Linked DNA regions of Homo sapiens: region 2 is linked to region 1. Evidence: fine-mapped expression QTL. Tissue or cell type: whole blood. Region 1 holds a variant in brackets; the other region holds the start of a gene. All regions are shown on one strand. Distances are from middle to middle.

What was found. PIP is the estimated chance that this variant, and not a neighbour inherited with it, causes the effect.
Region 2: SMURF2 starts here. The variant in region 1 is fine-mapped to the expression of SMURF2 in whole blood (INTERVAL, PIP above 0.99).

What each region holds. Positions count from the first base shown.
Region 1 is chr17:64,594,942-64,597,704 of GRCh38, forward strand. The region is part of intron 3 of SMURF2 (SMAD specific E3 ubiquitin protein ligase 2); the gene reads right to left. Among named protein-coding and RNA genes, the nearest start is that of SMURF2, 66 kb to the right of the region's middle. The variant CA/C (reference allele first, on the strand shown) is at 1,644.
Region 2 is chr17:64,661,151-64,663,650 of GRCh38, forward strand. SMURF2 (SMAD specific E3 ubiquitin protein ligase 2) reads right to left here and starts at 1,157. Exons shown (of 19, transcript NM_022739.4): 1 at 679-1,157. The coding sequence starts at 730. RefSeq lists silencers at 651-850, 901-1,300 and an enhancer at 1,451-2,009.

The DNA of each region.
Region 1 (2,763 bases):
ATTGCGTCACTGCACTCCAGCCTGGGCAACAAGAGCAAAACTCCGTCTCAAAAAAAGAAAAAAAAAAGTTACGTTAAACCAGTTGTCCAACTAGTAAGCCTGGTTTACAGGTATGCTGAAATACATATATTGATTACCTCAGTCCTCAGGGCAACGCACCACTGGCTTAAGCAACTTCATCTGTGTAGTCCAATGTGCCATATTTTTTATGTGTACCATGATATGAAAAGGTTGGGAAGCTCTACATTAAATCATAATAAGAAATTGCTAATTATAGACCTTCTGGAAGATAGCCTAACTCTGAATTACTAAAAATTATGAAATATATTGTATTACTTAAGCGTACATGTCACAAACATTCTGTCCAAATATTCCTGGGCCAGAAATGAATCCAAAATATTACCTTTTCTTATACATAGAGAAGTACATGCTCTCACTTTAATGAAACCTCATGTAATATAACATACATGGCAACAAAAACAGTAAATTCCTTTTGCAATTGAAAGTTAAATAGAGGGCTCTATTAGCTTCTATTAAAACTTTGACTTACTAACAAATACATGATTTATAAACAAGTTTCAGGATGTTTTGTTGAAAGGGAGAGAGGGACACCTCTATAGGTGAATACAATGTTACCATATAGACCAAAATATGTACTCAGGATTTTGGGCTAAAATTTAATTATTAGATTTTGTTTGTATACTTAGCCAATTAAAGGCAAGGGTTTTGTAAAATGACTTTGGAAACAATCATAAGAGATGCTTCTGACAGCCAATTAATATTAATTGTAAGATAAAACCTAATAAGTACAAGAAAGATGTTCAACATCATTAGTCATGATGCACCTCAAAACCATGACCAGATACAACTTCATACCCACTAGGGTGGCCACAATTTTTTTTAAAAGAAAATAACAGTGACAGAGGAATAAAGAAACTTCCAGTGGAAAACAACAGTCATGAAAGATCAAAATCAGGATGCCATCAGCAATACTCTAAACCTACAATTTCCAAAATGGTACCCACCAACCACGAGACCCTTGAGGACTTCAAGTGTGGCTAGTCCAAATTGAGGCAAGCTGCAAAATAAACCACTGATTTTTTTTTTTCTTAACATAAAATGAGAAAACCGCTGATTTTTTAGAGACATAGTAAATATGTATATATACATATATGTGTAAGTAGCTCAATATTTTTATACTGACATGTTGAAAGTATTTTTGATATACTGAATTAAATAAAATATATTATTATGCTTCATTTTAAGAAACAGGGTCTCGTTATGTTGTAGCTGGATTACAGGTGCAAGCCACTATGCCCAGTTTATTATGCTTAATGTCATCTGTTTCTTTTTACTTATCTTAACGTGGATGCTAGGAAATTTAAAATTATAGATGAGCTCCCATCTGTGCCTTACATTATATTTCTACTCAACAGTATGGATCTAAACCTAGAAGATAATGGAGCAATGTATTCAACATTTGGAGGTAAAGTGATATTTCACCTAGAAGCCTATATTCAAACCATATCAAAAGATAAGAAGTCAAAGTATATCTTCTGATAAGATCTCAACTTTCTTCCCATCTTTGTATTATTTCTCAAAATGACAATGGAAGATAAAGTTCACCGAAACAGGAGAGTAAA[CA/C]AAAAAAAAAAAAAAAAAAAAAAAGGAAGTCACTAAACCTAGAAGAGACAAAGGAAATTGCCAACATAACAATAAAGGCAAGTCCCAGGACAACTGCGCAGTGGGTCTTAGAGAACCATCACACAAGACTAAAGAAAGAGAACACAGACTCCCAGGAGGGTTATCTCCAAGAAGAAAAAAAGCCAATGGAATACTGACAGAACTGAATATATGGAGAAAAGATCTTTAGTTCTATAGGAGAGTCTGAGGATTATGACATATAACTTCTCATTTCTATCTAGGAGATAAATAGATAACTAAACAAATGGGAAAAGTAGCTACTAACTTCAGAAAAAACAAAAGTTGTCAAGAAAGAAAATGTAATTCTTGTACCCCTGTGACCCAACTATGGATATTTACATAATCATAATAATGTAAACATGGAACAATGGTTTAACCAAAAAGGTTCATATAATTATATTGGAAGACTAAAGAAAGGAAGAGGCTTGTGTCATGAGAATGGGGATGCTGAATACCAATTTTAAAAGCTGAACCACTGGGCTGGGCATCACAGCCCACGCTTGTAATCCAAATACTTTGGGAGGCCAAGGAGGGAGAATCTTGAGCCCAGGAATTCAAGACCAGACTGGGCAATATAGCAAGACCCCATCTCTACAAAAAATTACCTTAAAAAAAAAATTAGCTGGGCATGGTGGCATGCACCTGTAGTTCCAGCTACTGAGGAGGGTGAGGTGGGAGGATCAGTTGAGTCCAGGAGTTAGAGGCTACACTGAGCTATGATTATGCCACTGCACTCTGGCCTGAGCAATAGAGTGAGACTGTTTCTAATTTTAAAAGAATTTTTAATAATAAAAAATAAAGCCGAATCATCTTCTAGGTAGGAAATTCAAAAATACCTAAAACTAGGCTGGGCGCAGTGGCTCATGTCTGTAATCCCGGCACTTTGGGAGACCGAGGCAGGCGGATCACTTGAGGTCAGGAGTTCGAGACCAGCCTGGCCAACATGGTGAAATCCCATCTCTACTAAAAATACAAAAATTAGCTGAATGTGGTGGTGGGCACCTGTAGTCCCAGCTACTCGGGAGGCTGAGACAGGAGAAATGCTTGAACTCAGGAGAC
Region 2 (2,500 bases), 66 kb after region 1:
ACAACCCCAAACATGCCACCCTACAATCAGACACTTCCAAAACACAGTGTACAATGAGCCCAAGCCGTCGGATCAGACAGGCACACCGGAAAAGTCAACCTGTCTCCTCACCTCAGAGACATGAGTTTAAGGTGTGTGGCCCGGGCAGCGGTGGCCGGCGGCGGGGAGTAAAGGTTTTTCATGCGGGCATAACTGGGTGTGTGCAAGGTAACAACCCGGGAACACACACGCACACCCTCCCGTTAAGCGCTCCATCTTTAAGGAGTGTTTACTGCGCGCAGTCAGCAACCGGATTCAATAATCCTCGCCACGGGAGCTCTTCATCCCCTTCACGATCTCACCTGGGCGGTAGCCCAGGGGCTGTTCCCCGAGCCCCGGGAGGCAGCGTCTGGCTCCTTGACCAAGACTTTCCGACCTGAAATCCGCCTGCGATGCGAACCGGTGTATTCTCCCCTCCACAAAACACCACCCCCCGCCCCGAGTCATCCTCGGCTTTTTAAACAATGTCCAAACCAGAGCAAGTGGTTTTCCAATTACTCTCCCTGAACTAGGCCTTCCCATTCCTCCGACCCCCAACTCATCATTGATCGCGACCCTGGCCCTTCCCAAGGCCACAGGCACCCCCCGCCAGCTCGCCCACCCCGCGGCTGCCCAGCCCGGCCCGCCGCCCCCCCTCACCTGTCAGGCGCAGCTTGACGGGCCCGTTCCTCCGGCCTCCGGGGTTAGACATGTCCCCGGCGGCGGGGGCGGCGGGGGCGGCGGGCGGCACGGGGGCGACGGCGAGGCGCGGCGGAGTCACCACAGCGGCCGGGGCTGGGGCCCGAGCAGCCGGCGCCTCGGCCGCCACGGCCGGAGGGTCCCGGATGTGCCGAGAGTCGTCGCCATGAGCCGCGGAGGGAGCGGGACGCCGAGCTCCCCCCTCCTCCCACTTCTCCTTCCTCGGCCCGGGCCGCACAACAAAGCGGCAGCCGCGGCCGCCCGCGCCGCCTCCGCCCGCGCCCCCGCCGCCTCCTCGCGGCCGCCGAGGCCTTTCCCTCCTCTCGTCTCGGCGAGGCCCAGTAGCCGACGGGGCTGGTCGGCTGAAGCGGGCGGTGCTCGGGGGCGCCGGAGCAGAACTCTGGGCTCGGCCGCTTCCTCCTCCACCCGCCCTCTTGTCTGAGGGACCCGGGACCTGGGGCCGCCGCCGCCACTCGTCGGCTCCGGGGGGCGGGGAGGAGACGGGAGGCGGGGCCGGCGGGGCGGGGCGGGGCCGGGGCGGGGCCGGCGGGCGCGCGCAGGGTGCCCTGGCGGGCACCGGCAGTCAGGGAGGGTGTGAGCTGCCGCCGAGGGTCCCACGCGGAACGCTGGGAGGGAGCAGGCAGGGAGCAAAGCGGCGGCGGGCGCGGCAGCTCTGTGGCACCTGGAGGGGTTTACTGTCCGGGCCACTTAAGGGAGAACTTTTGTCCAAGCAGGGCCAACTGCATTTTATTAGACGCCCACTGCGTGCAGGGCGCTCCGAGAGGCTGGGGCGAGGAAGGTTAGAACCGAGTCCGCTGCCTGCCGGGAACTTGGCGTCTTTCGGGCGAGGGAAGAGAAAGCATTCCCACGCCGATGGTTCCAGCAAAACCCCAGGAATGCTCTGCTCCTGGTCTTGTAGTTGACACCTCCATCCGGGACTCACCTGGTGGAGGAGATCAGGTTACCTGCCGACTCCCGCTCTTTTCAGGTGCAGCCAAGGATGGGGAGATGATACGTCTTAAAGGATTAACAAGATAAACCTTGGAGAGTAATGTATGAAGAGTTGTTCATACGCTACTGTATTTCGTTATCTCAGGAGGAGAAAGAGAAAAGTTTTTAAAAAATGTGTACCTTATCCTTTGACATTGTAACTGTACTGCTAGAAATTTATTTTTTATTTTTTTGTTTTTAGACAGGGTCTCCCTCTGTCGCCCAGGCTGGAGTGCAGTGGTGCGAACACGGCTCACTGCAGTCTCAACTTCCGGGGCTCAGGTGATCCTCCCACCTGAGCCTCTGGAGTAGCTGAGACCACAGTGTGCACCACTACGCCCCACTAATTTTTGTATTTTTAGTAGAGACATGTTTAGTAGAGACGTTTAGGTTTTCCCATGTTGCCCAGGCTGGTCACGAACTCCTGACCTCAAGCGATCAGCCCGCCTCGGCCTCCCAAAGTGCTGGGATTACAGACCTGAGCCACCGCACCGGCCCTATTCTTGACAAATAATCGTACAGAAGATGTTCTTTGCTATATTCCATTAATAACAAAAGGGGAATGAGGGAATAGCATAATAGTCCAGGAACCGCATGGTTTTTTATGCAGCCATGTAACTATTTTTATGAAGATCATATAATATGGAAGAATGTATATGTAATGCAAAGTTTAAAAACAGAATAGAAGTTGTATGCATATACATGCGAAAGTATCTAGCACAATGTAAACTACTAAGGACAATAGCGTGGGGGATTTTTTATGTGATTCGTTAGTTTTGCTTTAGGCTATTAT